3 linked regions of the Homo sapiens genome follow. The main gene of each other region encodes a partner of the protein of the gene in region 3 in a complex. Each region holds a gene or a part of one and is shown on either strand. Other genes may lie near its edges. A codon is read from its position in the direction of its gene.

Region 1 (7,932 bases), on a different chromosome or scaffold from region 3:
GAGACTGCTTTTGAGAGCAAAATTAATCTCTGTAGTACTAATGTGTAGCATGAGTAGGTGTTCAAGAACTGTTCGTTAAATTGAATTAAATAATATTAATAAGATATAAATAAGATTAATAAGCATTTCTTTTATAAGAATAGGGATTCTCAATCTTTATTATAGCACCAGGTGCTATGTGCTCTGTGCAGAAATTTTATATTATACCACTACCTCCCTCTTATGGTAATTTACATGAATATGTACAAGTGAACCAACTTTGCACTAATTTGTTTACTGTGATATTTATCAGTAATTCACTAAAGAGGAACAGCAGAGTATCACTAGCTTTTCAGTATTTGAGTCCAGTATTGCAGCTCTTAAAAGTAGGTTTTTCTAAAACTAAAAATCAGAATGTTGAGATTGTCATTTTCAAAGATTTATCCTTTTACCAAATAAGAAAAAGCCAGCCATTCACAAAGCAGAAAGGGGTCACCATTAGCTATGAATGCTTTCTATGTCTCTGGAGCTTCACATCCAACACAACTATAGCTGTGAGAGAAGGGTGCTGATCCCTTCCTCCCTTCCTCCTTCCCTCTTTCCTTATCTCTCTTTCTTTTTTTCTTGTTGTATCTGACAATGGTTACTTTCTTTTTTTCGAGATGGAGTCTCATTCTGCCGCCCAGGCTGGAGTACAGTGGTGCAATCTTGGCTCACTGCAACTTCTGCCTCCCAGGCTCAAGCTATTCTCCTGCCTCAGCCTCCTGAGTAGCTGGGACTACAGGCACACGCCACCACGCCCAGCTAATTTTTTTATTTTTAGTAGAGACAGGGTTTCACCATGTTGGCCAGGATGGTCTCGATCTCCTGACCTCAGGTGATCCATCTGCCTCAGCCTCCCAAAGTGCTGGGATTATAGGCGTGAGCCACCGCACCTGTCCGATGGTTATTTTCAATCCCAAGACGTACACTTTATCCAGTAAAAATTGGGCTGAAGAATTTAGGAATTCTAAAATAAAAATTTGAATTGGAAAAATAAAAATTTACTTCATGAAGATTAATATATAATAAGGAGAGTGACAGGGGTTGTGAGTGCCCCTTCATTCATGACACTCTAGCTGTCAGGTCTGGGATTTGATTTTACCCTACTTATAAGCTAAGTTAAACTGTTACTGGCTCATGGATCCTTTTACCAGAAGACACAAGACTCTAAGGTTGGGGACAAAGTGTTGGTATTACTTACAGCACAGCAAACACCTTGAGCATCAACATATTTGTGCCAGTTATTCTTGCTTTCAGGTCCCATGGGGCAATGTAATGGTACCAGATGGATGTCATGCATAGAGTGGATTTGTGCTACAGTTGAGAAACACTCAACTTGGGAATCCACTGCTTTTATAGTAAGCAGTAAGTAAACCTAGTTTTTGTCTTGGACTGAGATGTTACCTCATCTCTCAAGGCAACTAGCTGCAAATAACCCTTAGAAATGGCCTGTGTAAAAGAGTACTCAGGGCCTTGCAATCTAGGCACACCCAGCAAGATGTATATAGGAGTGCAAGAAGCCCAAGGAAGATTGTTTTAGTAACCACACCAGCATCTCTAAAGAATGGCCCTAGTTAGGCATAGATGGCTCATGCCTATAATCCCAGCACTTGAGGACGGTGAAGCAGCAGGACTGCTTGAGCCCAGGAGTTCAAGGTTACAGTGAGCTATCATCACACCACTGCAATCCAGCCTGGGCTACACAGCTAGACCCCATCTCTAAAAACGTTACGAAAAGGCCAGGGTCAGTGACTCATGCCTGTAATCCCAGCACTTTGGGAGGCTGAGATGGACGGATCACCTGAGGTCAGGAGCTTGAGACCAGCCTGGCCAACAGGGCAAAACCCCGTCTCTACTAAAAATACAAAAATTAGGCCAGGCATGGTGGCTCATGCCTGTAATCCCAGCACTTCGGGAGGCCGAGGCGGGAGGATCACCTGAGGTCAGGAGTTCCAGACCAGGCTGGTCAACATGGTGAGACCCCATCTCTACTAAAAATACAAAAAATTAGCCTGGGGTGGCAGGATAATTTCTTGAACCCGGGAGGTAGAGGTTGCAGTGAGCCAAGATCATGCCACTGGACTCCAGCCTGGGTGACAGAGTGAGACTCTGTCTCAAAAAACAAAAACCACAAAAATTAGCCGGGCATGGTGACACATGCCTGTAATCCCAGCTGCTTGGGAGGCTGAGGCACAAGAATTGCTTGAACATGGGAGGTGGAGGTTGCAGTGAGTGGTGATCGCGCCAATGCACTCCAGCCTGGGTGACAGAGTGACTGTCTAAAAAAAAAAAAAAAAAAAAAAAAAAAGACCTACTATTTGACAGCACAAGTTGACTAGAGTCAATAACTTGATTGTAGATTTTAAAATAACTAAAATTTATAATAACTAAAAGTAACACAAAGGATAAATACTCAAGGGGATGGATACCCCATCTCCATGATGTGATTATTTCACATTGCATGCCTGTATCAAAACATCTCATGTACCCCACAAATATATACACCTACTATGTACCCACAAAAATTAAAAAACAAACAAAACAAAGCCACTATAAATGTTTTGCAAAATGGCTGAATTCTGCATGCCTAACAGCAATGTATGCAAGTTGTACTTGCTCAGCATTTTCATCTTCACCAACATTTGTATAGTCAGTCATTTTCCCCGCTCATTCTAACAGAAGTGTAGTCTAGTATCTCATTGTGGTTTAATTTGCATTTCTCTAATGACTAATGAGGTGGAACATCATTTAATATGCCTGTCGTGTGTGTGTGTGTGTGTGTGTGTGTGTGTGTGTGTGTGTATGTATATATATATCTCGTTTGGTGAAATCTGTTTAAATCTTTTGCCCATTTTTTAAATGCTTTTTTTCTCACTGAGTTTTGAGAGTTCTTTATATACTCTGAATAAAATCTCTAAACGTTTGCTTAAAAAAAAACTCATCTTAGTTTAGAATACATCTGAGTATGTGTATTCAAATGACTGTGAACCACTTTAATTCCACACTTTGCCCTGAGTTTTATAACTGATTTCAGTAATTTCACAATGTTATCTTTCTGGGAATTGCTTTTCTCTATATGTAAAAATGAGGGAAATTTGTTTTACTGTCAAAATCTAAAACATTTGTCTTCAAGCTCTAAAAAAGGTATTCTGTATAAAACTGAATACAGCCTAAAATATAGCAGAAGCTCTGCTTCCTGTTAGATATAAATAAGTGAAGTAATGTACGACCCAGGGGTAAATAAGAAAACAGTGAAACAGTGATTCCAAATGACATTGGGAACATAATGAAATTTGGGAACTCATTTCTAAATTATTTTTTATTTTTTTATTTTTACTGAACCAGCAACCCAGTAAGGAATGATCTGGAAGAAACGCTTGGCCAGGTGTTGTGGCGCGCGCCTGTAGTCCCAGCTACTTTGGAGGCTGAGGCAAGAGGATCGCTGTTCGAGGCTACTGTAAGCTATGATTGTGCCACTGCACTCCAGCATGGGGAATAGAGTGAGACCTAGTCTCAAAAAAAAAACAACAAAAAAAAAAACAGGAGAGAAAAAGAAAAGCTGTTTTATCTTCCCTTACCTTCCCAGAATCTATACCTTGAAAAAAGGAACTGTTAAAAAAAAAAAAGCCAGTGTGTTTAGGTTTTGACAGCAGTGCATGCAAGCTTCTCTCTTAATTCAGCTCCTCTTAATTCACTCTGCACCTGCATCTGATTTGCAAAAGATGAAGCGTAAAATTTCAAAATAGCAAGTGTTTGTTACAGTGTTAACATGTGGCTCAGTGCTCTATGCAATAGACCATGTTGCCTTGCAAATTTTCCTTAGCCAAGTGTAATTGTTACTGTAGCAAATCTACTTTAATGCTACTTGAAATGAACAGTTCGTAGTTATTAGACTGGAACCTCAAGTAGCTGCAACCGCTAGAAACTCCTCCGGTGGTTCCCCCCTCCCTGGTCTCTCCAGAGGGAAGAAGGTCACCTTCTACACTTAACTACCATGCTCATTCATCTGGACGAAATGCCCAGTCCACTGTCTTCTTCACGCGTTATTCTCCAGGACAGGGCTCCTCCGCCGCGCACGTTATTTCCTGTAGAGCGGGCACGAAATTAAGCACCTTGAAGACCAGCGGTAGACACAGATTATCTCCGGTTCCAAGCACGTCTCCCGCTAGGAACTTTTTTCACTTGTCACTCTTCTGCTGCTTTTTGAGGAAAACAGGTGATATTTGGTTTCCTGCCAGAGTCTTCGTCACTCTCGTAACTATGATGTCTGGGTAAAAATAGCTCACATTTTTGCTTAAAAAATAACGGCCGCGCAAATTTATGGTTAGATTTGTCTCAAGTCTGAAGACCGCGCATCCTAACTAGTGAGGCGGAAGACACCTAAGGAGCCAGGAGCTGTCGCCGAGGCGAGGCTGCGGAGACGTTCCCTTGGTGGGCCGCGGGACCACCCACCCCGCCAGAAACTCGGTTCGCTCACCCTAAGAATTTTGGGGCAACTGGACTTCTCCACCGCCCGCTTCCGGACCCGCTCCGGCGCCGCTTCCGGACCCACTCCTCGGCGAGCGCAGGAACTCGCTCTCCCAGCAGGCCCCGCGCGGTGCGCCTCTCGGCGCGTTCCGGGTCCTATGACAGCTCGGCTCGCATGCGCCACCTACGGCCCCACCCGCGGCCCCACCCCCTGGCTCCCGGCTCCTTCCCCGACTCCCGCGAGTTCCAGTCCCAGCTTCCAGCTCCCCAGCCCCGCCCTCAGCCGCGCGCGCTCTCCCCTCCCCGCCCTCGCTTCTTCGCGTGCGGCCCCCACAGCCAATGAGGTTCAGGGCCGCGTGCGCAGATTCAAACGGCGGCTCTTGAGGGAGGCTGGGCGCGAGATTCGGCGGTGCGGACAAAACCCTGCAGGAGACTGCGAGCCCTGCAGAACTGCTAGCTGCGGGGGAGAGGGCAGGGGTCGGGCGCCTGTGGCGGAGCCGGGCTGGGGCCAGGGCAGGGAGGCTGACAAGCGGCGGGAGAAGCCGGCGGAGGGCGGGATCGCGCCTCCTGACATGTTGGGGGTATCCCTGGCCGGGCCGGGCCGGGGCTAAGAGCGGCGCTGCGGGCCGGGGTCGGGGTCGGGTCGCGGTCCGCCCCCGCTGTCCCTCCGTCCTGCCCTGTCGAGGACGTGCGTTCCGCACTCGGCCGCCTCCAGAGGGAGCGAGGGAAGCGGCTAGAGGATCGGGGAGAAGGAGCATTCGCCGGAGGCTGGAGGAGGCTGACCCGCGTCCCCGCCCAGCCTGCTCCTATGCGGTACTTGAAGGATGGCGAAGAGGTCGCGCAGGTGGGTGGCACCCCTTTCGCCCAGGCCTGTCGGCGCCGTCTCGGCTCAGATTCTCTTTCCTATCCCGCTGCCCCCTCCCGCCATAAGGCCCTCCCTGGCGAGGGCAGAGGTTTTTCTTCCCGCGTCCCCGCGGCCGCTTGGCCTCGATGACCGGAGGGCAGCTGCGACGTGTGGAGAGTTGGGGACCAGGGTGTTTGAGGCGCGGGACGTAAGAGATGCCCAGGTTTCTCGGTGACTCTCCCCGTAATGCGCGTCCAGATTTCTGACCTCATGCTGCCACTTCTTCGAGGCAGGTTTCTTGCCAGGTAAGTCGAGCGCTTTTAGGGAGTCCGCTACGCAGAGAAAACTGACTGTGTCCTGCCGGGAGGACTTGAAAATGGTGTTCGGGCGACTCTTTTCTGAATGACGGTACAGTCAAAATAGGAACTCCGCGGTGAACCTGGGCGGCCACCCCTCTGCCAACTTGGCTATCTTGAAACGTTGTGGAAAATCCTCTGGGGAATAGCTGAGAGGACTTTTTTGATGTTTTCTGTAATTCCTATACCCATATGCTCAGCTTTATGTATATATGTATATTTTAATATCCTCTCTTGGGACCATGTCACATAGTAACAACTAGTAGTAACAACTAGTAGCTTGATCTTGAAATAAAACAATGTGTTTGATTCACTTAATATTTTGAGTGTCTGTGTTTGGCTCTGACCGTACCTAAGTGTTCCACAGAGGTAAGGCACTTTTTTCCACCTTTGCCTGGAAAATGTGCTAGGATGAATTTATGCATCTAATTTTCGTTTACATGCCATTACAGCAGCTACTCATAAATTATGTGGAGTAATTGCTTAGATAACAAAAATATAGGATGTCTTCCGATTTTCAGCATTATCAAATAAACCTGAAAAGATGTTTGGCAGGATTTCCAAATATTTATTTATCTAGATCCACAGCCCCAAAATCTTAACTAGAGATGTATTTCCTAAGTTGAAATTTAGTAATGGGGGTCATTCATTGCAGAGTTCTGCTAAAAATTGGCAGTAACTATACATAATTGTTTTTTCCTTAGTTTTCTGTTAAGCATCTGCTGTGTGCAGGATGCTTCTGCAGAAATCCTTAAGTCTCTGTAAGCTTATTAGTTTTGAAGTAAGTTATAGGACAAACTCTTGAGATGAAATAAATGTGTACACAGACCCCTCTAAAACTGTTTTCAGCCTTTGCACTATTGACATCTTGGACCAGATAATTCTTTGTAATGGGGAGATGTTTAGCAGCATCGCTGGCTTCTACCCAGTAGAGATAGTAACACTCCACTTCCCTCAGTCATGACAGTAAAAATGTCTCCAGACATTGCCAAATATCTTTTGGGGGACAAAATCACCCAGGAAAGAACCACCCTTCTAGAACTTCAAGGACCCAATTAACATCAATCTTCAGAAAAGATAGATATTTAAAGCTCTTGTAATTATGATTGCCGAAGTACTGGTTTAGGCTTTTTGAATTTTTAAATATAAAAAAATTTAAAAATAAGATGACAATTGAATATGTTAACTCAATAACAAGTTTATTAATGTGTGATATTATCTACTTATCAGTATTGATGTTAATCTTATTTGAAACAGTTTCTTGGCTAATTCTGTCATCAGCATTTAGTTAAATTAAAATTATGGCTAGACACGAATGTTTAAATGTCAGAACCTTCCCCTCCCCATGGGTTTTCTGTCCATTTCATATGTGTGAAGTGTATGTTTCATAATAATGGACAAAGAAAGGAGAAACAACTTAATGTTAGTTTGCATATATAAGTTGTTTTATTGAGAATACTGTGAGCTTGAAATCTAAATATTGTACTTTTGACATTTATCCCTTGACAGTTGTGTAAGTTAATTTAAACATGATAGAATGATTTAAAGGGTCGTAAATCTGGAGTAATTAAATGTGGTGGGGTGAAGCTATACTCTCCCTGGGAGTATACAGATAGAGGATGTGGGGAGAAATTATCATCTCTGAATGATGTATCTCTTAAGTCTTCATACTTAAATGTGTTTCATACTCTGAATTACATTTCTTGCCCACGTAAATATGATTTACATATCTTAGAAGATAGTAGATGCTCTGCTTTTGTGCTTCAACAAAAAACAAAAGAGGATAGAGTGTGAATTGTTTTGAAGCAAAAATAATGTCATTGGGAAAAATCTCTCTTGCCTTTTACCTAAGTATCTTAATATATTTGAACTCAATTTATAGTTGAAAGGGAAAAGAAATAATTCAGTTACTTCAAGTTGTAATTTGAGATCTCCAGTATACAACCACTTAAGCGTTCAAGTGAAAACTATACTTTGCTGTATAAAAGTTTTGCCTAAGAGCATAGGCGTAAATCCTGTAATATATGTTTCCTATGTGAACTGAAAAAAAAAAACCCAAAAAAACCTAAGAGTAGAAAACTAAGTGTTACCTCAAGTGTGAACAACTGCAGGATGTTAGCTGTTTTGATCTTTAAGATAGCCGTAGTATCTGTCCTCTAGATTTACATAAAGGAAGACTCATTTGTATTGTGACTTTAAATAATTTTACATCCCACTGGGAATTGCGATGACAATTTACAGGCA
Region 2 (7,376 bases), on a different chromosome or scaffold from region 3:
TAGAGTGAGAGAGACCCTGTCTCTAAAAGAAAGTTAAAAAAAAATTATTGGGGGTACAATCTAATAACCTACATGGGTGACCTTATGATACCACAGTCTGGGATAGAACTCAGACTCTGCTGTGAGTCTTACTCTCATAAATTAAGTAATTAGATGGCTGTATTTGAATTTCAGTTTTCTCCTTTTCAAAGACGCTCCAGCAAATTTATCACGAAAAAGACAAAAGAGTAAATGACAAACATATTAAAATAAATATTATCTGAATTAAATTTTAAAGACAGTGACAGGTGGAACACTAAAAATAGAAGTGAAAGAGCTAGGCCGTGGAATATTTTGGAATGAGATACTTATTTAGAAGCTGAATTTAAGTTCAAAGTGCTTGACTTGATTTTTTCAGATTAAAAAGAAAACATTAGGTGGAGAGGAGTGAAACTTTGTAAGAGATGAGAATGAAAACTTAAAAATCAAGAGTGCAAATAAAGTGACCATAGAGATGGCTAGAAAAGGAAAAAAATTTAATTTTTTTTTTTTTTTTTTTTTTTGCAATGGAGTCTCGCTCTGTCCCAGGCTGGAGTGCAGTGGCGTGATCTCGGCTCACTGCAAGCTCTGCCTCCCGGGTTCACGCCATTCTCCTGCCTCAGCCTCCTGAGTAGCTGGGACTACAGGCACCCACCACCACGCCTGGCTAATTTTTTGTATTTTTTAGTAGAGACAGGGTTTCACTGTGTTAGCCAGGATGGTCTCGATCTCCTGACCTCGTGATCCACCCATCTCGCCCTCCCAAAGTGCTGGGATTACAGGCGTGAGCCACCACGCCAAGCCAAATTTAATGTTTTTAATACTCTTCCTGGCCAAAGAAAGGAAACTAAATTGAGAGATGACAGGGGAAAAAAATCAAACTCAAGGAACACATCTCTAAAATCCCCAAAGTTTGTAAAAACAATTTAAAAATAAACTAAAAAGTTTAATAACAATTACTTCTACTTGTATTACTTGGCTTTTTTTTTCAACTGTGGTGAAATATACATAAATTTTACCATTTTAATAACTTTTAAGTATACATTTCAGTGGTATTAAGTACATTAATTGTGCAATCATCACATTCATTTCCAGAATTCTTTCACCTTCCCAAACTGAAATTTGGTACCCATTAACAATAACTCCCTATTCCCTTGCCTGACTTTTTAAATGCCCTTCTTTCTGGCAAGAGAAGGACATTTTTGCAAGAGCGCACCCAGGCAGGAGAATCTCTTTTGACTCCAAACATCCATAATTTCTTTTTTTTTCCTTCTTTTTTTTCTGAGACGGGGTCTCGCTTTGTCACACAGACTGGAGTGCAGTGGCATGAACATGGTTCACTGCCGCCTCCACCCCCTGGGCTCAAGAGATTCTCTTGCCTCAGCCCCCCCAAGTAGCTGGGACTACAGGTTTGTGGCATCACACCCAGATAATTTTTGTATTTTTTTGTAGAGATGGGGTTTCACCATGTTGTCTAGGCTGGTCTTCAATTCCTGAGCTCAGGCGATCTGCCTGCCTCAGCCTCCCAAAGTGCTGGGATTAGAAGTGTGAACCACCACGCCCAGCCATAATTTCTAATACAGTATGTACCTGCGCTCACAAAATTTAAGACTCGGTTAAACTTAAAACTTAAGATCAAGTAATATATTATTTCTGCATATATCTAATCAATCTTTCAATAAATGTTAATTAAAGACCTACTGTTCGTCAGGCACTGTGCTAAACCTGGATCCAACTATGAACAAGACAAACTTGGAATTTACAATCTAGCGCAAAAGGGGCAAAGTTAACAGAGTAACTATGCTGACAAGGAAGATACTGAGATAATGAATAATGGTGGGAAAGGGCAACTCCAGATACTGTGTTCTAAGAAAGACTCTTTGGGAGGTGACATCTAAAAAGAGAACTGAAACTGAAAAAAAAAAATGTTTATATGTTTGAGTCATCTTTTGGTCTCCCAAAGCACCTAGCATTATGCCTTTCATGTAGCAGGTACTTAATATAGCTCACCTTGGCTTCAATTTCTTCATTCCTGCAATGAACTTCCAAGATTCCTTCCAAATATAAAATGTTTTTGTCTAAGGGAAGGAAACCTATATATCAATAAAATCGATATATAGTTGGGATGAGGATGGTAGAACTAAAAATGAGTTTAAAAATGACTGCAAGACCCTAACTCTCTAAAGCAGAACCAAGAGGAAAAGCATGGGAGTATACCAAAACAACTTAATTGTTACTTGAAATGACTTGCATTTTACACAATATATAAACAGAAATCGTTAATTCACTCAGCCTTAAGAAACAACACGTAAAGCAGATGGAAGACAGGTTGCGACCTGTGCAAGACGACACTTAAAAGCTCAATACTGATTCTCCTCGCGACTCTCAGGGCGAGGGGCCGAGAACGTCCCCCGCTTCTCTTGCTGCCACGGCAATGGTCCCAAACTGAGGAGACAGGAGAGAGATCATGTTTCTCTTGCGGTTCAGTATCGAGATGAGGTCAGCCAGCAGCCCTGCGAGGGTTTGTGAGAATCATTCCATCCGTGCGCTCAATCAGAAGAGAACTGATCCTTTCAATGGGTACCCCAAGGAAAAAACTACAGTAAGCCACGTCCTCCAGAAACATCTCCTCCTCGACCCTCAGCCTCGCCCAAATAGAGATAAGGAAGGCACAGGGCGACCCCCCTGTCCTTTTACCCAGAATGAGTCCCTCCCTAGTGCCCTCCTCCACACGCCTGGTACAGAGCGGGGAAACTGGGCACCTCCGGAGCTGCTGTGAAGAACCGGTGAGCTGAAGACGGCGATGGATCTCAAGAAAAAAAATAAAAGGGAAAGGAGAAGAGCCCAAGAAAGAAATGTATGTTCGAGGGGCAGAGACAGAGTGGATGTTCCCAGTAGAGCAAAGAAGGAGGCTGCAGGCAAAGATCTCTAAGCCGGCTCTTACCGTCTGTGGGAGACGCCATCTTCCAACCCATGTCACGTGACGTGGCCAACCGTCGGCGGGAAAACGAGGTTCCATAAGCCACGCCCCCAAAGAGAAACCCTATCCCCAACTCGCAGCCCAGTCTCATTCCCTCGCCTCATAGGGCAATCTTTGCCTAGCCCCGCCCCTAAGTATAGCCACGCCCCTTACGCGGATGTTGAGGTGGAGCGACTGCAAAATTCTTGAAGGGTCTTATTTACTTTTTTCAGTGGGGGGGTGGGGCCTCGGTTCCGCCCTTGGCCAATCGGAGTTCCAGGTTAGGGGGGCGTCTTCCCCGTGTGCTCGGTAGGGAGTGTCCAAGTCAGGGGCGTCTTCTCTACCTCCGCCTACGTCATTGGCTGAGGTGGCAGAGGGCGAGAGCATTTTCGCTCCTAACCAATCACTTATCCCCAGGACGGGGGTGTGAGGAGAGGAATCAGGTGTTCGGACCAGTGATTGGCTGGAGAAAATAGTCCTCCCCACCAATGAGGAAGCCTGGCAGGATGGAGGGCGAGGCCTGGCAGCTGTAGTGCTTCTGGGCAGTAGAGGCGCGGGGTGCGGAGCTAGGGCGGCCGAGAGCCATGGCGGCGCTATTGGCGGCGGCGGCAGTGCGAGCCCGGATCCTGCAGGCGAGTGAGGGTGGTGCCAAGGCACCATGAAGCTAGGAATTGGATCCTTTCCGTCCGCTCCCTGAGCCATCCTCGGGCGGGACCACCTTCTTGGCCCAACCCCTTTTTGGCCAGACCTCCTACCCGACCTGTGCGGCCCTGTCCCATGCCCAGCCCTCACTTCATAACCTCCCTGGTCCCGGATCCAACCCTGGGCTGTTACCCTTGGCCCTCTACCCTTTTACTCCTAAGCCTCCTCTTTTCTGGCTCTCGCCCACTCTCCTTCTCCAGCTCTGCCCGCTCCCTGCTGTCACTCTCTTGCCCTCATCTCTCCATCCGCCCACCGTCTTTCCTTTTTACCTCTGCACCAGCCTTCTCTCTCTCCCCCAGAAACTACTCTTTTTGGTTACTCTGTCCCCTGCCGTGAGCGTCCACTTTGCCATTGCTCCCTTCCCCCACCCTACTTCACTATCCGTGGTGATCTGAGGTAAGGGGGAGGGGGGACGCGAGGGGCGAGGGTCAGTGTATGAACTTTGAATTTCCTTCTAGAGGTGGACTCTAGATTTTCACCAAAGGCAGCCATTTGCTAAGCTATTTTCCCTAAGTGTGGCTCTTTGTATTTTCCATGGACTGGCTGTCCCCTTTCTTGCCAAAACTTTGAGTTAAACTTTTTCTCAGCTAAGTTACAGTTTACATAGATAGGGCACATCTACATAGATAGGGTAGATAAGGGCACACAGTTAAAGCTACCAGTATGTTCCATGTATGTTCAAGGTACCAAACATCTTTAAAACGGGTGATAGAAAGTGGGAGCCAGGTAAGACAAGAAGTCTAAGTTCCCACCCCAAAATCAGCTCTTCTAGTGCTACACACCCTCATCTCTGCACTTGGGGGATTGAGTCCTCTCTGAAGCCAACCTAAGGAGAAATGGTAAAGCTACAGGAGTTGCATGCCTGAGGCCTGTAATCTCCAACTCTGTTTATAGTCTTTCCCCTGTTCATGGCCTACCAAGGATTTAGAGTATGTGGCAAGATTTACCGCAGGCAAGAAACAGTCTGCAAGAAACAACAGTGCCGTTCTTATTCATTACATCCAGTCTGAGAATTTCCTCTATATTGCTGAGCTTTTAGGTAATATTAGTATTCACCAGGTTTCCGTGAGTTCTAGTAAAGAAACTTGGGCAGTTTTAAGATTCTTGGCAGAGTCAGCAAAGATTCATTTTTAAATATGCTATTTAATGGGGAAGGTAGAAAGGATGAGTTTGAAGGGTTTGGCAGATGGTCTGGCCTCACTCATATTTCTTGCTGCGATCCTTGTTCTGTTCTAGTATCTTTTTTTAGTAGCAGGAAAACAAAGTTTCCACCCTATATTTTTCTTACCAACTTCTTGAAATCTTTTACTGAAATTGGCTTTTTTCCTTTGCCTCCTCTTCCCCTCCCATCACAATGAGTCATTGAGAACCTTAAGAAAGTATTTTGTCCTTTTCCATCAAGGAGAAGAATCTCTCTTTCCATGTACTTTTATTTCAGAAACAGACACTATGTATTTTCTGATTCATTTGGAGAAACTTCTGAAGTGACCTGGAAAAGAACAGATAGAGTAATCCTCAGCCAACTAGGAGTTGTAACGTGAATCTTTGATTAAAAGTTCGATAAAAAGTAGCCTACGGGCCAGGCGCTGTAGCTCCTGCCTGTAATCCCTGCACTTTGGGAGGCCAAGGTGGGTGGATCACCTGAGGTCAGGAGTTCGAGACCAGCCTGACCAACATGGTAAAACCCCTTCTCTACTAAAAATACAAAAATTAGCCGGGTGTGGTGGCGGGCGACTGTAATCCCAGCTACTCAGGAAGTTGAGGCAGGAGAATCGCTTGAACCCGGAAGACGGAGGTTGCAGTGAGCTGAGATCGTGCCATTGCACTCCAGCCTGGGCGACAGAGCAAGACTCCATCAAAAAAAAAAAAAAAAAAAAAAAAAACCTCGATTTTGGCAGCCATGAATATTAGAGAACTATCAAAAGGATTTATAGAGGAGAAAGTTAATGTTTTCAATTATTTTAAGTATTCAGCTTATTTTTCTCTGCCACGAAGAGTAGTCAAACTTAACCTAAAACCTCTCTCTGCTCCTTGTGATATTATCACTCCCATGCAGAGATAAAGGAATGTTCGAGACAGGGTCTCGCTCTGTCACCCAGGCTGGAGTGCAGTGGTGCAATCACAACTCACAGCAGCCTCGACCTCCCACGCTGAAGTGATTCTTCCATCTCAGCCCTCCGAGTAGCTGCAACAACAGATCGTGCCCCCATGCCAGCTAATTTTTGTATTTTTTGTAGAGACAGGGTTTCACCATGTTGCCCAGGCTGGTCTTGAACTCTTAAACTCAAGCTATCCTCCCACCTCAGCCTCCCAAAGTGTTGGGACTACAGGCACGAACCGCTGCACCTGGGCAAGAAAATTACTCTTGAAGAGATGTAGCGACTTGCACTGTCGGTGATATGGTTACCGAACTAGTAACTGATGGGGCTGAAAATTCAGAACTTAAGTCTTGCCATCTCTTTCTATGTTAGGCACTGACATAGGCTTACAGTAAAATGCTCACTGAAAGCTCCTTTATTGTACTGCAATAAGTGATAAACAATAGGAGTATCTGGGATACTGTGGGGACCTAGGGAAAGAGCCAAGTATTGCAGGACTAGCAGGCCATGAACCAGGAGAGGAAGGAGTTCCTTATAAAGGATATAGCAAGTAGGAAGTAAACATCTAGAGAGCAGCAGTTTGGGGTGACTGGCCACAGGATAGTTTCTTCAGCAACAATGCTAATGGGTGTTTCTTAGGAAATGAAGAAAAGATAGAAGATCGAACCTGTCAAAAAACTATATGAATATGTTCTATTATACCAGATGTAGTGCTTTTTACATCCTCTTAACAGCAGGGAGGCTGTATACAAGTGAAAAAATAAAATTTAAGTGGCCTAGAATGCTCAAGTTGGCTGATCAGTGCATTGTCTGCCAACTTGAGAGTACTGAAACAATATCAAATGATTGCTTGGCGAGTACTCATTCTTTCATTGTGCAAAATATTGCTTACTAAGTACTTACTCTCTTCCAGGAATTGTGCTAGGGGCTGGGGACACAACAATCTAGTGACCTCAAAGGAGAGAAAGTTAATCATTAGACAAGCTATTATTTCATAGCGTGAGATGAGAAATAAAGGAATTTGGGTGCTTTATGAGCTTCACAATCAGCTGCTTACCATAGACCTGAGGTTGAGACTTCCTAGAGAAAGTGATGATGGCTGAGTGGGGACCTAAAGGAGTAGGAATGAGCCAAGGAAATTAGATGAAACAGTGCCAGGCAAGAGAGAGCAGCATGTGCAAGAGCAAAGAAAGCAAGACACACGTTAAATTGCAGGAGCATAGAGAACAGGGAGGAAAGTAGCCAGTTATGTAACTAGAAAAGCAAAGATACTATGTAGCGTTTTCTAAGCAACATCAAGGGGATTAGTCTTTATTCCAAGGGCAGTGGAAAGCCAAAGAAGAATTTTAAACAAGGGAATAATCTGACCAGATTTATGTTTCAGAAAGACCCTCTGATTATGGGATGGAAACTAGATTCAGAAAGTTTAAGAGTAGGCTGGGTGTGATGGCTCATGCCTGTAATCCCAACACTTTGGGTGGCCCAGGCAGGAGGATCGCTTGAGGCTAAGAGTTCAAAACCAGCCCTGGCAAGATAGGGAGGCCCCATCTCTACAAAAAAAAATTTTTTTTAATTAGCTGGGCATGGTGGCATGTGCC
Region 3 (7,827 bases):
ATAAGAAATTTTATATTGCAAGGATAACTAACAATATATCATTGGCTGGGCATGGTGACTCAAGCCTGTAATCTTAGCACTTTGGAAAGCCAAGGTGGGAGGAACATTTGAGCCCAGGAGTTCAAGACCAGCCTAGGTAACATAGTGAGACTCCATCTCTACAAAACCAATAAAAAATATATTAGCTGGGAGTGGTGGTACATGCCTGCAGTCTCAGCTACTTGGGAGGCTGAGGTGGGAGGACTGCCTGAGACTGGAGGTTAAGGCTGCAGTGAGCCATAATGGCACCCCTGTACTCCAGCCTGGACAACAGAGCAAGACTTTGTCTCAAACAAACAAATAAATAAATAAATAGGCCAGGTGCAGTCGCTCATGCCTGCAATTCCAGCACTTTGGGAGGCCGAGGGCGATCATGTGAGGTCAGGAGTTTGAGACCAGCCTGGCCAACATGGTGAAACCCCGTCTCTACTAAAAATACAAAAAATTAGCTGGGTGTGGTGGCGTGCGCCTGTAATCCCAGCAACTTGGGAGGCTGAGGTGATTCCACTGGAACCCGGGAGGTAGAGGCTACAGTGAGCTGAGATCGTGCCACTGCACTCCAGCCTGGGAGACAGAGTGAGACTCTGTCTCAAATAAAATAAATAAACAAATAAATAAATAAATATTAAATAAAAAAATGTGATTGAGGAACACAGAATGCTATATACAGACACACAACTGACAAGACCTTTCCTCAAAATAACATCAACTGCAAAAGAACACTGTGAATATTTTCATGGATTATGTTATAAACATTTTTATTTATAAAGATCATATCAGCCAGGTGCAGTAGCTCACACCTCTAATCCCAGCACTTTGGGAGGCCAAGGTGGGGGGATCACTTGAAGTTAGGAACTGGAGACCAGCCTGGCCAGCACAGTGAAACCCCATCTCTATTAAAATTACAAAAAAAATTAGCCGGGCATAGTGGTGCATGCCTGTAATCCCAGCTACTCAGGAGGCTGAAGCAGGAGAAAAGCTTGAATCCAGGAGGTAGAGGTTGCAGTGAGCCCAGACTGACCCACTGCACTCCAGCCTGGGCAACAGAGCAAGACTCAGTCTCAAAATGAATAAATAAATAAACAAATGAAAATAAAGATCATTTCTATCCCAAGCCAAAGTAGTTTTCATTTTCCAAAAAGGAAATGAAACATTATTAGACTATGATTCAAACTAAAAAATTTATTTAATCTAATTTTCAAACTCACTACATTTTTAAGAGTCCAGCTATAAGGAAATTTTCCAATATAATACTTCTACACTTAGTTCAGTTTAGGCTTAGATTTCTTAGTGTCTAATCACTAAGTACTTAGCAGGTGAATACCTGTTTCTAGTCTCTGAAAAGAAATAAAATTTCTTCTAACCATATAAGCTAGCCAGGACATCATAACTGTTGAACTGACTGATGATGGCAGAATATGCTGAGGTTACTAAATAAAAGCCTTCATAGTTACCCAAGTTATTAACAGCCAAACATTCAGAATTTCACAGAACATATGCAAGAATGTTTGAGCCCTTAAAATAGCAGAATAATAAGAACTCAGACACAAGACAAAGCTCAAGAAGAAAGATCTTTAAGTCTTTTTTGGTTTTTATAACTTTTATTTTCAGGCTTTGTTGGAAATAGCAGCTCTTAAAACCTACACGGTGATAAACCTACACGGCCCTAGAAAAATTTTCAACTTTAATAACATAAAAGGCATTGAGTTTTTAAACAAACAGCCAAGATATTCAGAACAATTCTTACCACTTGGATAAGAAATTCTACTGGAAAACCACCTAATGTTTCAGTGTCAGAGCCAGAAATTTTACTTCTCCACGGCGACTGTCCTAATAAAGGATCATTATCCTATGGGAATAAAAAGGAATTATTTAATCATTGACTATTCAGAGGAAGTATCTTATTTTTTTATTTTTATTTTTTTTTAGACGGAGTCTCGCTCTGTTGCCACTTGTGATCTCGGCTCACTGCAATCTCTGACTCCTGGGTTCAAGCGATTCTCCTGCCTCAGCCTCCCGAGCAGCTGGGATTACAGGCGCGCGCCACCACGCCCAGCTAATTTTTGTATTTTTAGCAGAGACGGCGTTTCACCATGTTGATCAGGTTGGTCTCGAACTCCTGACCTCGTGATCCGCCTGCCTCAGCCTCCCAAAGTGCTGGGATTACAGGCGTGAGCCACTGCGCCCGGCCAGGAAGTATCTTATTTTTAGAAAAAGAGAAAATTCTGTTATAATTAATATTATATTAAAATCCAATAAAAAGGAAATTATTTCTGGAGATGAAGCAACTATTTATTTTATTTAATATTTTCAATTCAAAATAGTGTGCATACTTTGAAGTTGCTGTAATAGATGTGTATTTCTTAAGAACATAGTTCACCTTCATAAAAATCAATTAAATTATTGATATTTCTAAAATATACTTACTATAATTGGTGACTGGAGAGGAGGAGTATAATGTAACCGTGGTGGGGTCATAAAAAATCGAGAAGGCCGCTGTTTTTGTCCAAAGGCAGCAATTGGCATTGTCTCATGAGGTTCATTACTCTGAGAAAACAGAATAATTCACAAAACTTAAAGAAATTTACCAATCATTTAAGCTTTATAATCATTGTATTTCAGCTTGAGATATATATTCACGCATATTCTATGATTCATATAGAATTTATTACTTATATATTTAATTATTTATAGAGTAGCATATTAGTCTATACAGATCAAAGGCTAGAACTTGAAACAGAGTATGAAAACACTACTTTGCTGCCAAAAGGATGAACCTCCAGAAGAAAAAAAGAAATAAAAAAAAAGGGGGGGGGTCAAAATAGTTCAGAGAATCAAAGATTAATATTAAAGTTTTCTATGGCCACATTTGGTTATCTGCATTTAGACTGTCTGAATATACCCTACAATTAAAAATCAACTCTTATTTAGCCAGGGAGAAATATTTGGGTGATCTCATAAAAACAGTTAAATTAATGAAACAGAGAAGCAATTTACTTTTTTTTTTTTTTGAGACCGAGTTTTACTCTTGTTGACCAAACTGGAGTGCAATGGCGCGATCTCGGATCACTGCAGCCTCCACCTCCTGGGTTCAAGCAATTCTCCTGCCTCAGCCTCCCAAGTAGCTGGGATTACAGACATGTGCTACCCCACCCAGCTAATTTTTGTATTTTTAGTAGAGATGGGGTTTCACCATGTTGGCCAGGCTGGTCTTGAACTCCTGACATCAGGTGATCCGCCCATCTCAGCCTCCCAAAGTGCTGGGATTATAGGTGTGAGCAACCGCGCCTGGCCAATTTACTTTTTTTGAAAGGAGAGTTTAAAGCTTTCATCCTTTAATGTAAAAACTTAAGAGCAGTGTACTCTGTTCTACATTTAGTTCTAATTTTCTTTCTCTCCTATTGCGGAGAGATATCAAGCAATATTGTATTTCTGCACTAAGGAGATATATATATATATATATATATATTTCTTTTAGGAAATATATTTACAAAGACATACATATATATGTGTGTGTATATATATTATGTATATATGTATGTATGTATGTATGTATGTATATTCTAGGCAGAGGTTGCAGTGAGCCGAGATCACACCACTGCACTCCAGCCTGGGCGACAGAGCAAGACTCCGTCTCAAAAAAAAAAAAAAAAAAAGATCTCAATTCTAGTCTCAGCCTAATAGGAAACCAGATCTAGAGCCTTGAATAAATTACGCAATTGTACTTATGTCTGAGTTTCATCATGCAAAAGTGAAGGTAATTAACACCCACCTTGCATGCCTCTGAAGATAAAACAGGAGAACAAATAAGTACAAGATGTTACTATACTTTAAAAACAATTTTGCAAGAGGACTATACTTTAACCTAACAGCTGCAATGAAAATGTTATGTAGCTTCTTCTCCAAGGTTATTTAGTCAGGACTCATCAGTTTGGTTATACTAAAGTGCTGTGTCGTTAAGGTCCAACAGAGAAATGCTAGTTCCTGGCAAATGGAAGACTTAAGTATAGATCCGAACCAGGGGTCTAGCAGATAGGGCTGGGGTCCCCTAAGGATCTCTTCCTCTGTGAGATAAAGTCTTGATTCTATCATAAAATACGATTTCTAAAAAAACTCTATATAACACATTTAACAGGCATAAAACACAAATGTATTATGAAATACTACTTACGAGAACTTCATAGTCAGGGATGGTATGGGTTCCAAGCCCTGTCCTATCAAAAGTTACTCTATAAGTAGCATTAAGAGTATCCACAGCATCTATTTGTCCAGTGAACAAACCATCATGAACACCACGTAATCGTGCTGAGAAAAGAACAAAGGCATTATGATGTGTGGGAGATACAAAGAATAGTCAAATATAAAACTGTTCCAAGCATGTAATTTAAATCATAGTACAGTATTTTGTCTATTAGAGTTTCAAAACAAGCACACACTTTATTTTTGGCTTAGAGAAACAACAAAGAATTTTTGAAACAAAAACAAAAACTATAAATGATGATCCCTAATTTCATATTTGAATAAAATTATATTACTCCCAAATTAAGAGAAAAATATTTTAAATCATTTAACTGCAAAAAAAACAACAAAAGAACTTTGGTCATTATACTCATGAGTGAAGCACCAGGAGTAGTTCAATTTAAAAAAAAAGACAAAGATGTTGTGTAGAAAATAATTAAAGAAGTTAATACTGCAGGCCTGATGCTGCTATACTTAGGAAAACCTCCTTGCAAGGTTGGCCTTTGTCTGGTATCTGGGAACTTGGATTTCGGAAGTGTTCCCACTGTTCCCTAATTAATAATGGTGGTTTTACTGTGTCTAGATTGTGCAAACGATGTGGTTAATGCTGGACACCTGCTTTCCCTCTGGAAGACTGGAATTTTAGTATGTACTAGGCAAAAGATGCCTACATACTCAGCCCCCAGTAGAACTCTGGTCACTGAGTCTCTAATGAGCTTCCCTGGTAGACAACACTTATAAGCATTGTGACAACTTGTTTCTGGGAGAATTAAAAGTCTTGCATGACTCTATTGGGAGAGGACTTTTGAAAACTTGCACGTGGTTTCCTCTGGACTTTGCCCCAAGCACCTTATTCTTTTGCCAATTTTGTTTTGTGTCCTTCACTGTAACAAATCTTACCCATGAGTACATGTGCTGAGTATTCTGAGTCTTTCTAGTGAATCACCAAAACTAGTAGTCTTGGAACTGATGACACAGATGAACTGTGTCACTATTATTTAAGTCCAGCCTAAAATAACATCAGAGAAATCCAAACAAACATCCAGCATGAGTAAAAAATTTAAGAACAACAGCATTGATGGCTGTAAACTGGGCAAAGTAATACATTTTATACTAACCAAAAAGTATAATACACAACATTTTAATAGAACACAGAAATACACAATGCAAGACTGTTTAAAATAAAAGGATCAATTGATAAAAACACAACTGTAGAGGACTAAAATCTCTCTCAGTTTCTGACAGATCCTTTAAGGGAAAAGTAAACATGGATACAGAAGATGTAAATAATGAAGCTGAGTAAACAAATATAAGCATAGAAAAGGACTACTAGTTATGGTGGCATGAAGAGGCTGGTAATTCCTCTCCACAAAAAACAAGTACAAACCTGAATGAGATTGTGAAAAACAACCATTCCAGGGTACTGGAAATGGATCAAATGTAGAAAACAAGAAACGTTTATTGTTGAAGAAGTGCTAGAGCTTCAGGTTAGGGCAGGGGGACTCAGTGGCCTCTTTGCACGAGGTTATTCACACACCCACTACTACCACCAACGTGGTCGATGAGAATGGTTTTATTAGTTCAGGGTTGGTCACGAAAACCAGCCAGAATTTTGACTGGTCATGAAAGACAGCCAGAAATTTAACAGGGAGATCATGGAAACTAGAGAGCCATAAAAGGGCGGAAATAAGCTCTCTACCATCCCTGGCTAACTGGGTTACTATGCAAATGGAGGGGGAAGATCCAATAGTCTGGCAAAAAGTAAAAGCTAAGGATGACTTGAAAACTAGCAGCAACTTTGTATTTACATTCCCCAACTCACATATAAATCAATGTGAGGCTTTTCCCGATCAAGATGTTTGAGCATAACCTCTGTTCAAATCATTAGGTGACCACTAAATTATTATTATTATTTTGAGATGGGAGTCTCGCTCCGTTGCCCAGGATGGAATGCAGTGGCACGATCTCGCTCACTGCAACCTCCACCTCCCGGGTTCAAGTGATTCTCCTGCCTCAGCCTCCTGAGTAGCTGGGATTACAAGTGCCCGCCACCACACCCGGCTAATTTTTTTTTGTATTTTTAGTAGAGACAGGGTGTCACATGCTGGCCAGGCTGGTCACAAACTCCTGACATCAGGTGATCCGCCCGCCTCAGACTCCCAAAGTGTTGGGATTACAGGCGTGAGCCACCGCACCCAGCCCTGACCACTAAATTATATGCAGACACAGGGGTAACTCTTTGGAAATCAAGTTTAATAATAATAATAAATATAAGAATAAAAAATGAAGCAGAGACATCAGTATTTGCATAGCCAAGTTATTAAAGCAAATCCAACAACTCTCCAAAAAATTAGAATACATAGTTGCTACAATATATTATCTGAAATATCAAGTTTTCCACCAAAAATTACTAGACATGTAAAGAAGTAGGAAAGCATGGCTCTTAAGAAAAGTACAGTAAGAAATTGAGAGAGATATTTAGCAAAGACTTAAAAAAGCAGCTGTTATAAATATGTTCAAAGAATTAAAGTAGGCTGGGCGTGGTGGCTCACTTTGGGAGGCCCAAGAGGGTGGATCGCTGGAGCTCAGGAGTTCAAGACCAGTCTGTGCAACATGGTGAAACCCCATCTCTACAAAAACATACAAAAAAATTAGCCAGGCATGGTGGCATGTGCCTGTAGTCCCTGGAGGCTGAGGTGGGAGGATTGCTTGAGCCCAAGAGGTAGAGAGGTAGAGACTGCAGTGAGCCAGGATAGTACCACTGCACTCCAGCCTGGAAGACAGAGCAAGACTCTGTCTCAAAAAAAAAAAAAAAAAAAAAAAAAAGGTTTGTGTATGTATGTACTTTTTTCCTATTCTCTTCATTTCTGTTTTTTGAAAAATTTATTTGATAAATAAAATCTTTTTTATTTCTTTTCCATTTACTCCTTTAGATAACCTACAGAAAATCCCAGATAACCTGGAATTATCGTTCATTTTACAAAGATTACTTTTAGGATAGTTCAGATTCTTATAATTTCTTAACAAATCAATGATTTTAATATCTTTTTTAACACTCTCATTTCTCCAGGGGTAAACAACTGTGGCTTAAGTATGACGTCTCAAACAACTTTCTATATACTGTAGCTAAAGTATCATGTCTAGACATTTTTCCAAACTTCTCTACTATTCAAATTTTCCATTACTTTGAATACGCAGTGCATCTGTCAAAACTCTTGTGCTTCTAACTCTGTATCTGACAATCACAAAGTCCAGTCACTTTTTACCTGCCAGATTCTTTGTTCCTACAGCAAAATCCCTAATAGAGTGACTTTTTAATTCTTTTGGCTCTTGTTTTTGAGGAAAAATCTACTACTCTTTGTTTACTAAAATATTTTCTAAAGAAGGAATATGTTTAATTAAATTCTATTGTGGTCAGAGAAATTCTCTATATGATTTCAATCTTTCAAAATGTATTGACATTTTTAATGGGCCAGTATATGGTATATGTCGATAAACAAGCCATTTGCCTATGTAAATAATATGTATTCTGCAGTTGAGTGTATTGTT

The links. The genes of interacting proteins can lie anywhere in the genome.
Region 1: LIN9 (region 3) and MYBL1 share a complex: the UniProt entries of both Homo sapiens proteins name them as parts of the DREAM complex.
Region 2: the proteins of LIN9 (region 3) and LIN52 are in contact, whole or in part, in a crystal structure (PDB 6C48), measured with the Homo sapiens proteins. Residues at the interface, in NP_001353174.1 of Homo sapiens: Leu335 (codon at 1,822), Gly336 (codon at 1,819), Phe338 (codon at 1,813), Phe342 (codon at 1,801), Leu343 (codon at 1,798), Ile344 (codon at 1,795), Val346 (codon at 1,789), Thr347, Leu349, Ser350, Lys351, Leu353, Met354, Lys356, Lys357, Ile360, Leu363, Arg364, Asn367, Thr368, Ala370, Glu371, Lys374, Ile382, Phe384, Gln385, Tyr388, Ala389, Val392, Leu395; in NP_001019845.2 of Homo sapiens: Asp61, Met64, Leu65, Leu68, Gly69, Leu71, Thr72, Thr73, Leu76, Met77, Val80, Leu83, Gln84, Leu86, Ala87, Leu90, Asp93, Glu94, Glu97, Met98, Arg100, Gly101, Leu104, Asn105, Ile106, Leu107, Glu108, Pro110.

Annotation. Positions count from the first base shown.
Region 1 is NC_000008.11:66,610,219-66,618,150, reverse strand, and holds the start of MYBL1 (myb-related protein A), read left to right. Parts: upstream 1-4,932; 5' UTR 4,933-5,312; coding exon 5,313-5,332; intron 5,333-5,357; exon of another isoform or gene 5,358-5,578; coding exon of another isoform or gene 5,579-5,637; intron 5,638-7,932. UniProt on the Homo sapiens protein: Transcription factor that specifically recognizes the sequence 5'-YAAC[GT]G-3'.
Region 2 is NC_000014.9:74,080,580-74,087,955, reverse strand, and holds the start of LIN52 (protein lin-52 homolog), read right to left. Parts: upstream 3,001-7,376; 5' UTR 2,994-3,000; coding exon of another isoform or gene 2,982-2,993; coding exon 2,963-2,981; intron 1-2,962. Other genes in the region: ALDH6A1 (methylmalonate-semialdehyde/malonate-semialdehyde dehydrogenase [acylating], mitochondrial isoform 1 precursor), read left to right, coding at 3,562-3,609.
Region 3 is NC_000001.11:226,263,747-226,271,573, forward strand, and holds part of LIN9 (protein lin-9 homolog), read right to left. Parts: intron 4,345-7,827; coding exon 4,211-4,344; intron 2,587-4,210; coding exon 2,467-2,586; intron 1,889-2,466; coding exon 1,787-1,888; intron 1-1,786. UniProt on the Homo sapiens protein: Acts as a tumor suppressor. Inhibits DNA synthesis. Its ability to inhibit oncogenic transformation is mediated through its association with RB1. Plays a role in the expression of genes required for the G1/S transition.